3 linked regions of the Homo sapiens genome follow. The protein of the gene in region 2 interacts with the protein of the main gene of each other region in a pairwise test. Each region holds a gene or a part of one and is shown on either strand. Other genes may lie near its edges.

Evidence for each region.
Region 1: the proteins of TBX19 (region 2) and RAB2B interact in binary tests that used the Homo sapiens proteins (3 or more experiments, as listed by UniProt).
Region 3: the proteins of TBX19 (region 2) and CCNB1IP1 interact in a two-hybrid assay, tested with the Homo sapiens proteins (one large-scale study listed by BioGRID).

What each region holds. Positions count from the first base shown.
Region 1 is NC_000014.9:21,463,307-21,466,959, forward strand, and holds part of RAB2B (ras-related protein Rab-2B), read right to left. Parts: intron 2,565-3,653; exon of another isoform or gene 2,211-2,564; intron 462-2,210; coding exon 350-461; intron 1-349. UniProt on the Homo sapiens protein: The small GTPases Rab are key regulators of intracellular membrane trafficking, from the formation of transport vesicles to their fusion with membranes. Rabs cycle between active GTP-bound and inactive GDP-bound states.
Region 2 is NC_000001.11:168,308,252-168,311,904, forward strand, and holds part of TBX19 (T-box transcription factor TBX19), read left to right. Parts: intron 1-490; coding exon 491-626; intron 627-3,653. UniProt on the Homo sapiens protein: Transcriptional regulator involved in developmental processes. Can activate POMC gene expression and repress the alpha glycoprotein subunit and thyroid-stimulating hormone beta promoters.
Region 3 is NC_000014.9:20,316,162-20,319,814, forward strand, and holds part of CCNB1IP1 (E3 ubiquitin-protein ligase CCNB1IP1), read right to left. Parts: intron 1,814-3,653; exon of another isoform or gene 1,633-1,813; intron 400-1,632; 5' UTR 363-399; coding exon 66-362; intron 1-65. UniProt on the Homo sapiens protein: Ubiquitin E3 ligase that acts as a limiting factor for crossing-over during meiosis: required during zygonema to limit the colocalization of RNF212 with MutS-gamma-associated recombination sites and thereby establish early differentiation of crossover and non-crossover sites.

The sequences.
Region 1 (3,653 bases), on a different chromosome or scaffold from region 2:
CGGGATCTCAGTTCACTACAACCTCCGCCTCCTGGGTTCAAGCAATTCTCCTGTCTCAGCCTCCCGAGTAACTGGGACTACAGACACACGCCGCCATGACCAGCTAGTTTTTTGTATTTTAGTAGAGATGGGGTTTCACCATATTGCCCAGGCTGGTCACAAACTCCTGAGCTCACGCAATCTGCCTGCCTTGGCCTCCCAAAACGCTAGGATTACAGGCATGAGCCACCGCGCTCGGCCAAGACATCCTTTCTTTACCAATTTCTTATAGGAGAAGAGAATTCTGAATACAAGGACAAATAATGGTGTAATCTCTAAAGAGCTTTCCCCACTGTTTTCCAAATAGTACCTCTTCAACATTGCAGGCTGTTTTGGCTGAAGTTTCCATGAATATAAGTCCATGCTCCCTAGCAAAGGCCTCTCCTTCTTCTCTCTTCACATCCCTGCGGGACTCTAGGTCACTGCAAGAGATTAATTAAGGAGAAAATTTAAAAAAAAGATCCAAGTGAAAGAGGAAAGTCTATTTCTAAAAGAATTCCGTCGTGGTTTCAACTGCCAGTTATTTCATAAAGAATGTAGATCCTACATGATACTCTTATACAGAGTTACTGATTTTTGTAGCATCTTGGAAAATATTCTTTAGTTTTGGGACAGCTGCTGCATAGTTGAAGATAATACCTCACTCTATTACAGAGAAAATGGCTTATCAAGGGTTAGGCAAGCCCCCATAGTTACACAAAGCTTATGCTCTATTGCTTGTTTTTCCAATGAGATCAAGGAGAGCAAAGTATAGATGAGGAAAAAAAAAAACTTGGCTGGGCACAGTGGCTCATGCCTGTAATCCCAGCTCTTTGGGATGCCGAGGCAGGTGGATCACGAGTTCAGGAGTTCAAGACCAGCCTGGCCAAGATGGTGAAATCCCGTCTCTACTAAAAATACAAAAATTAGCTGAGTATGGTGGCAGGTGCCTGTAATCCCAGCTACTCGGGAGGCTGAGGCAAGAGAATTGCTTGAACATGGGAGGCGGAAGTTGCAGTAAACTGAGATCGCGCCATTGCACTCCAGCCTCAGCGACAGAGCAAGACTGTCTCTTGGGCGGGGAAGAAAAAAAGGAAAACTCTAGTTACTAGAAAGCAGAAAAGTCATAAGATGTCCCATCCAGCAGTGATGAGCATCTTCCTTTTTTACTGGAATCAAGCCACAAGAAGAGAATGAGCCAGGAATAAGGAAAACACAGTTGTCTTAAGTCTCACTGGTTTCGTTACTAGTGCATATAAAAGCAGCTTGCCACCAGGGAATTCAGAGACAGTGATATGGATAAAATTAGGTGAAAAAAAAGATAAGAGCTAAGGACTGAAAAAGGGAATAAAAATGGCAACAAAAGACCTTATGAAAAACAGGATAAAAGGCTGCAGAGCTGGGCGTGGTGGCTCATGCCTATAATCCCAGCACTGTGGGAGGCTGAGGCAGGAGGATTACTTGAGCCCAGGAGTTTAAGAACAGCCTGCACAATACAGTGAGACCCTGTCTCTACAAAAATTTAAAAATCAGCAGAGCGTGGTGACACATGCCTGTAGTCCCAGCTACGTGAGAGGCTGAGGTGAGAGGATCTCTTGAGCCCTGGAAACAGGTTGCCGTGAGCTGAGCACGTTACTGTACTCCAGCCTGGGCAACAGCACGAGACCTTGTCGCAAAAAAAAAACAAAACCAAAAAAACAAACTGAAGAATAAGGCAAGGTTGGGCTGTTTGTGATTCGTATTTTTCAATTTGAAAATTTTCATTTGGGAGGTTTCCAGTTTTCCAACTCCTTGGAAAAAAAGTGTAAGACCATTAAAGAACAACAAATCTACAATATTTTAATTTATTATACCATCAGCTGTGTGAAGACCAGGGAAGATCTAAATGTCAACCCTCCCAAATTTGTACCTCTAGCCCAGATGCTTGACTAAGCACCAGATTTGTACATTTGTGAATTCTTCATTTCCACACTGATACATAAAACGGACTTCAAACTTAACACATCAAAATGGAACTTCTTTTCCCCTAGCCTGTGTTTGCTGCAGGCTTCTGTATCTCAGTAAATGGCATAAGCCAAAAACCAAAGTGTTATTATTGATACCCTTTGCTCCCTACTCCAAATATCTAATCCATTCCAAAGTGAAGTACTTCCAATATGTACCTTAAAATTATCCTTTCTTTCTCTTTCCAGGGTCACTTCCTAGACCAAGCTACCATTCTTTCTCATGTGGACTATTGCAACTGGGATACTACTTCAGTCCTTGTTCTCCTCCAGAGTGATCTTTTAAAATCTGATCAAGCCACTTCTCTACTTAAAACTTTAAAATGCTTCAGGTGTATTTATTTATTATTATTTTTAATCCCCCATCTCCCAAGCTTCAATTTCCATGTATTTAGAATAAAATCCAAAACCCTTACTCAGGCCTCTAAGGTGCTATAAAATCTGGTCCCTACCTACTTTTCCAACCTCATCTTGCACTATTCCCTCTTGATTTAGTCCAATCACACTAGGTTTCTTTCAATAAACGTGTCAAGCTTCTTCCAAGTTCAAGGTGTTTGTATAGTTTGTTCCCCCCAAGTAATACCCTTTTAAAAAAATCTTTGCCCAGCAGGCTCTTGCCCATCCTTCAGATCCCAGCTTAATATCACTCCTAATCAAAAGTAGGTACCCTGTTATTCTTTCGTAGCACCCTTTTTCCTCCATTGCATTTATCACAATTTACAATTTGATACAAATAATTTTATATTTAACATCTATGCCCCCACTAGACTGTAAGCTGCACAAGAGCAGGGGGACGACTTTTTTCCACCTTGCAAACTCAGAATCTGGCACAGTCGTTTTCAATACATTGACTGATACACTAAAAATAATTAGCAGGATGGGTGTGGTGGCTCACGCCTGTAATCCCAGCACTTTGGGAGGCCGAGGCAGGCGGATCGCCTGAGGTCAGGAGTTCAAGACCAGCCTGATCAACATGGAGAAACCCCGTCTATACTAAAAATACAAAAAAATTAACTGGGCTTGGTGGCACATGCCTGTAATCCCAGCTACTCGGGAGACTGAGGCAGGAGAATCGCTTGAACCCAGGAGGTGGAGGTTGCAGTAAGACGAGATCATGCCATTGTGCTCTAGCCTGGGTGACAAGAGTGAAACTCCATCTCATAACAAACAAATGAAAACAAACAAACAAACAAAAAACCAATTAGCCTGTGGCCACAGTTCTCAAATAGTACACTCTGGGCACTACTACAAACTCACAAGGGTGCCATGGGATACCTCAAACTTTTGAGAAAAACACAGTAACACTCAACACAAGGATACTTACTACATGAATTACAAGCTTAAGACAGTTGCAATGTCAATATCAGACCATGATAAAATTCGTTCAATATCTTCATATCTCTGAGAAGCTGTTTCTGGCAGTTGCTGTTATAAAAAAGCAAGCACTACACAAAAATCAATATGAAATGGGAAATGAGAGTAGCAGTGTGCAATCGTGATTCCAAGGTTTGAGAAGCTATGCAGTGCCCAACAGACACATAGAGGTCTTTAGTAAGTAACTGTTGCTATTTAAGAATGAAATAATTTTTTTTTTTTTGAGACAAAGTCTCACTCTGTCGCCCTGGCTGGAGT
Region 2 (3,653 bases):
GATTACAGGTGTGGGCACCATGCCGGGCCAAAAGGCACTGTGCTTGAGATATTTAAACCTACTCAGGGATGGCCGAGAAGAATAAGTTCCTGGACCTCAGAAATCTCATCTGGGGCACTGGTGGCCCTTAGGCTTAGCTTGAGGGGAGGCTGGTATGGTCCCTTCTTAAAAGAGAGTGACTGTGGTGAAATGAGTTAGACAGATCGGTGTTACCCAGGGCAAATCATTCTACCACCCTGAGGCGTATCTATAAGATGGAGTTAAGGAGTCACTGGTGTGAAGATTAAACTATGAATGACACCTGGCATATGGTTGACATTGAGGAAACCCACGTTTCTTTTTATTTTCTATTTCCCTGAGAAAGAACTAACAAACTGTTGGTGCCTGTAGTGCAAGCCATGGTTATATTTTGCCCTAGGATAATGTCACTGGTCACCATCTTTATGTCTTCTACATTTGCTATCAATTCAACTGTTGTTATTTCCCCAAGTGAATTTGATAGAAAGCTCAAGCAATAATCTGCAAGTTTTCTCGGGACCTGACAGCTGGACTTCCTTATCCTCCACACCCCATGCCAGCATCCTGTCTGTACCCCACACCAACGGACCAATCAATCCAGGGCCCAGGTAAGACCAACACCATCAACTCGCTCATTGGTCGTCTTGGGGGTTTACTTTAGCACTGGGGACTCAAGTTCATTCTTTTTCCTAGGGTGGCTTGGTCTAACCTATTGTCTTGACTTCTAAAACACTAAGAAGTCAAGGTGGCAACAGGGTGGAGTTCTTTCATAAGGGGAGAAACAGCTCAGTCATATACTGTTTCTTTTATTTAGAAGGATAGGCCGGGTGCAGTGGCTCACACCTGTAATCCCAGCACTTTGGGAGGCCAAGGCAGGTGGATCACCTGAGGTCAGCAGTTCCAGACCAGCCTGGCCAACATAGTGTAACCCCATGTCTACTAAAAATACAAAAATTAGCTGGGCATGGTGGCGCATGCCTGTAATCCTAGCTACTCAGGAGGCTGAGGCAGGAGAATCGCTTGAACCCAGGAGGCAGAGGTTGCAGTGAGCTGAGATTGCGCCATTGCACTCCAGCTTGGGCAACAAGAGTGAAACTCCGTCTCAAAAAATAAACAAATAAATAAATAAAAGGATAAAGACATTATGGCCTGGGATCATTTGTCTTAAACCAGTCAGAAATACTTTAAACTATGGTGGTAGCAAATAGATACTGACTGTAGAGGAATTGAAGAGGAAAAGTATAAATATACACTGAGAAGTCAAGACCCATGATTGTCCATTTTCCCATGAGTCACCCATCCTAAAAGGGGGACATATTGTGGATGCCTGGCCTCACGACCCTGGTAACAGAGTTAAGTGTAGCATGGGGGACCCCATGGTTTAATCCTCACACTAGCAACCTGCATTAAGTTCTGACTTCTAGAAATCTGAGTGGTGAAGTGGGAAGAGAAGGCCCCTTTGAGTCTGACAGGCAGGGGTTTGAGTCCCAGTTCTACCTCTTAGTAGTGATTTTGTGGCTTTGGGCAATTTTCTTAGCCTTACTGAGCTTCAGCTTTCTTATCGGTATCATGGAAATAATATGACCTACTTTGCAGAGTTACTGTGAGCATCAAATGCAGAAATGAGAAAATGCATTAACGTGCTTTGTAAGCAGTAACATTCTGTGTAAATGTCAGCTATTATGTTCAATATGGTTATGCAGAATTTTGAGAAGGTCCAAAGTGGATTCAAAATTAAAAGATGAGGCTTGGCGGGGTGCGGTGGCTAACACTTGTAATCTCAGCACTTTGGGAGGCCGAGGCAGGTAGATCCCCTCAAGTCAGGAGTTTGAAACCAGCCTGGCCAACATGGTGAAACCCCATCTCTACTAAAAATACAAAAATTAGCCAGGCGTGGTGGTGCATGCCTGTAATCCCAGCTACTTGGGAAGCTGAGGCAGGAGTATCACTTGAACTCAGGAGGCGGAGGTTGCAGTGAGCTGAGGCACTGCACTCCAGCCTGGGCAACAAGAGCGAAACTCTGCCTCCAAAAAAAAAAAAAGGATGGGATTTGGGAAGACATCAGATGACTTGTGATTTGTAAGTCCAGAAAAAGTTAGGAAAGGTTAGGAGAATGTAGTGGCTTAGAATCACCTGGGGTTGTTGTTAAAATGCAGAATCTGATTGGTAGGTTTGGGTGGGGGCCTGAGATTCTGCATTTCTACCAAGTTCCTGGGTGTTGCTGATATTGCTGTGGCCCACAAGGGTGTAGAGCTGTGCTGTCCAGTGCAGCAGCCACCAGCCACCTGTAGTTGTCAAACACTTGAAATGCAGCTAGTCCAAGTTGAGTGTAATACTCACATAGGATTTTGAAGATTTAGTGTGAAACAAAGAATAAAAATCCCAGTTTTTTATATATATATATAAAAAAATATAAAATATATATACCACTATATTACATATATTTTTATATTTTTAAATATAATATAGACTTATATATAAAATAGATAATATATATTTTAATATATATAATTTGTATAAAAATATATATTTTAATATCTATAAAATATATATTAAAAATATATAAATATATAAAAATATAACAGTATATGTAAATATAGATGTTATTATGTAAATATTATGATGTAAATATATACATATAAATATATATATTTACATCAAATGCATGTTGAAATAATATTTTGAATATTTTTGTTAAATAAAATATTAATAAATTAATTTTTTTCTAAATGTGGCTACTAGAAAATTTAAACTTACACATGTAGTTGGCATTTATGGTTTGCATTTTGACGCTGATCTAGAGGATCATTTGCATTTGACACTGATCTAGAGGATCTGAGGGAAAAACATTGATTTGGGCTGTGGTAGGAAGTGAGAAAGAGAGTGAAGATGAGGTTCCCTGAAGATATTAAACAATCATGTGCCAAGTTGTATACTAGATACTTACATATATATAAGTCATCCATATATAAGTCATCTGTAGTACTCAAAGACAACTATAAGGCAGGTATTAAAATTCCTATTTTGCTGATGAAGAAACTGAAGCTCAGAGGCCTTAAAAACTTCCTGAAGGTTCTGCAGTAAGCAGTACCTCTCAGAGCCCATGGTTCTCCCACTGGCCCAGGAGGCATCAGAAAGGGTCTGTAAGAGATAATGTAGAAGAGCATCTTCTGAAGATTGGGGCCAGAATCCCCATAAGCTGAGCTAGCTCAGAGAGAGCTCAGAGGATGGGCTGCTGAAGGTTTCATATGGTCCAAAGAGGCCTGTAGCATTGAAAAATGGCACCAGGTGAAGGATGGCATTGCCAACTCTGGCTTCCCTGTTGGTGTGTTTAACTCATTCCTGACTCCATAAATATTTTGTTAGAAACAAAACAAAACAAATGTATTCAATATTGCCATTGGATAATAAGCATATTATCAAGCAATACAGTGTTGGGCAATGCAGAAACTCTAAAATGTAAGAAACATAGTGATGACTACAGGCCGAAAACATTGGGTTCATTGCACCTGTTCCAACTGCATCTATATTAAGGTGCAAGCTTGGCTGTACATTACAGTCACCTGGGAAACTTAAAAAAATCCTCGTACTCAGGCTGCATGCCAGATCAGTTCAATCAGAATCTCTGGGGCAGG
Region 3 (3,653 bases), on a different chromosome or scaffold from region 2:
GACACTAGAAGTTCCCACAAATGCCATAAATCACATGCTCAAGAGAAACTAGACTAAGCACTAACCTGATATGTCCAGAAGGCCAGCGCTCGGGAGCTAATGTCCAACACGATCTCTGGTCGCAGTCCTGCCAATACCATAGCTTTATATTCCTCTGATGGACTGAGTTCTGTGCGGACAATATCTAGCTTTCCAGAAAGGGTACTGTTGCAGGCAGGACAGATAGCTGGTGAGCGACTAAACTCACCACTGCCATGCTGATCACAGAAGATGTGAGAGCAGGCAGTGACCCATGCATAGCCAGAGAGTTTGATGCGACACTTTCGATAATTACAAAGCAGCATGTCTTCACACAAAGACATAATAGGATAGTGAGGTCTCCAGAAGCTGAAGAGAGGCCTAAGAAGGGGTAAATAAAAAGGCCAAGTAAGTTAAATTGCAATGAAAATAAAAGTAAAAAAGAAATATAACATGCACGTTTTTATCATAAAATACTGCACATTTTATTATATTCCTTGTATTTATTATAATTGATATATTGATTTCAGTTACTCAATAATATTAATTGTGCTCGTTTGTCCGGTTTTCTAAAAACGCTTTAAGGACAAAGGTAAAGACAAAGGTGGTTACAGATCTTGCTAACGTCAAAAATAATATATACGTGGGCCAGGCTCAGTGGCTCAAGCGTACAATCCCAGCACTTTGGGAAGCCAAGGCAGGCGGGGTCCCTTCAGGTCAGGAGTTCCAGACCAGCCTGGCCAACATGGTGAAACCCAGTCTCTATTAAAAATACAAAAATTAGCCAGGCGTGGTGATTCAAGCCTCTAATCCCAGCTACTCGGGAGGCTGAGGCAGGAGAATCACTTGAATCCGGGAGGCAGAGGTTGCAGTGAAGTGAGATCGCATCACTGCACTCCAGCCTGGGGGACAGAGCAAGAATCTCTCTCATAACATGTATATATATAGGCTGGGCGCGGTGGCTCACCCCTGTATAATTCCAGCACCTTAGGAGGCCAAGGCGGGCGGATCACGAGGTCAGGAGTTCGAGACCAGCCTAACATGGTGAAATCCCATCTCTACTAAAAATACAAAAAATTAGCTGGGTGTGGTGGCGGGCGCCTGTAGTCCCAGCTACTCAGGAGGCTGAGGCAGGAGACTCGTTTGAACCCGGGAGGCGGAGCTTGCAGTGAGCCGGGATCGCGCCATTGCACTCCAGCCGGCGACGGACTCCGTCCCAGAAGGAAAAAAAAAAAAGTTGCCTTGGCCCTCCAGGTCGATAGAAAAGAACACTCGCACACCTTTATCCCAATAGCCCCGCTGAGTGAGTTTCCTCAGGTATGTCACCTGGCAGCCACAGTTAAGATTAAGAGGCCTATTTTACATCCGGCAGAGTAGGGGGCAGCGGGAAAGCAGAGGAGCTGGGAAGCTTTAAAGCTGAGCCCTCTCTCACGCAGCAGAGGCGCAGCTAATTCCGAATCTTCCACCAGCTGGGAGTAAGCGCCAATCTAACTTCTGTACAAGCTGCGTGAGGGGCAAGTTTTAGAGAAACAGACCCACAGAAATTACACTCTGGAATTTTCAGCCAGCTTTCCACGCTCAGTAGAGAAAATAATAGTAACAAATGATACTTAATCTGAGGCTGAAAGAAAAAGCGCGGAAAAACTCCGTTGCCTCCACAGCTCCACAAGCGAAGATTCCAGGATTCTCTGCGAGCGAGTGCTTCAGGGAACTACGCCAGAGCGCGCATGCGTGGGGTTGCCCCGAAGCATCCTGGGACCTGCCAGGCTGAGGGAGTTGCGGGCCGCAGCTCCGGCTAAGAATCGGGAGAAATTCCCAGAAACAGAGTGACAGCTGTAATTGGACAGCTGGCACCTCCATGTTGAGGTAGTCCACCATTTTATTTTTTATCCACCTTGGAATAGACATCTTTCCACTCTCACACATCCTCTATACACATTTAAGGAAATTATAATTTTCCTTGAGTCTGCATTACAAACATGCATTACAGCTCTTTAAATTAAGCGATAGTGGGCCGGGCGCGGTGGCTCACGCCTGTAATCCCAACACTTTGGGAGGCTGAGGCGGGCAAATCACCTGAGGTCAGGAGTTCCCGACCAGCGTGGCCAACACGGTGAAACCCTCTCTCTACTAAAATACAAAAATTAGCTGGGCGTGGTGGTGGACGCCTGCAATCCCAGCTACTCGGGAGGCTGAGGCAGGAGAATCACTTGAACCCACGAGGCAAAGGTTGCAGTGAGCCGAGATCGCACCATTGCACTCCAGCCACGGCAACAAGAGCGACCCTCCGTCTTTAAAAAAAAAAAAAAATTATTTAATTAATTGATAGTATTGAGGGTCAGAACTTTGAGGTGACCTACCTGCGTGCTCTCCTGGAACTGCTAGCAGTGTTTAAATGATTGCACTGTGCCAGTTTTACTCTAATGCTGTTGCCTGTCATTTTCTTTGCCCTTCTGTGCTTACCCATAGCAGCTGCTTTAGGTAATTATTTTCTGCTTAATCTATATGGATCTGTTAGAATTCAGATTAAAAATTAACCTGAAGAGGAAAGCTAGACGGGTCCTCAGGATATAAACCTTAATGAAGCTTTTTTTTCTTTTCCAGATAGGGTCTCACTCTGTCGCCCAGGCTGGAGTGCTGTGACGCGATCTCGGCTCACTGCAACCTCCGCTTTCCGGGTTCAAACGATTCTCCTGCCTCAGCCTCCCGAGTGGCTGGGATTACAGGCACATGCCACCACACCCCGCTAATTTTTGTATTTTTAGTAGACAAAGGGTCTCGCCATGTTGGCCAAGCTGGTTTCAAACTATTGACCTCCAGTGATCCACCCACCTCGGCCTCCCAACGTGCCGGGATTACAGGCGTGCGCCACCATGCCCAGCCTTATACCGTCTTTTGTAGCCATCTTTCCAGATGTTGTGAACCTATTATGAATTAGTAACAGATGCAATTAGCCACGCAGTGGACATCAAACCCTGCAAACCCCTGAGTAGTGCCAAACCATAATATCAAATCTTTTTCCTTCAAACAAAAAACTGTCAAAAACTGTGCAACTTCCTACAAGGTTTGTCATCTGTTTCGGAGTAATTAGGCCTTTGTACATTTCCTAAAATATCTTCTGATAACTTTAAAGTGGTAATTTAATTTTGGTATAAACCAGTTCCAAAAAAAGGAGATCTTCATGTGTGAACCATATACTCCCTAACATCTGTTTTTGGCTGTTTGAGCCTTCTGTGTGAATTCTGGTTTTAACTATGCCAAATGTAGAAATATTAATACAAAAAATAGTACAACTCATTTAAAGTTGAAAAATGCAAAATATTCTAATTTGACTAGTACCTAACTTTGTGATCCTAGCCAATTCCCTTTGCACTGCAATATGATCACTTCCTGGAGATGTATCTAAGTTAATAAATACTTAACATTAATTCATTTTAACAACATGTACTGCAAATATGCTACAATTTATCCATTCTTCTAATAGACATTGATTGCGGGTTTTTACAATTAAAAACAATACTGCAATGAACATTCTGTACATGTCTCCTTGAGTCCACGTGCCAAAAATTCCTCTAGAATATAACACCCAGAGCCTGGGTTAGTATATCAGCAACTTCAAATCAACTAAATGTTGC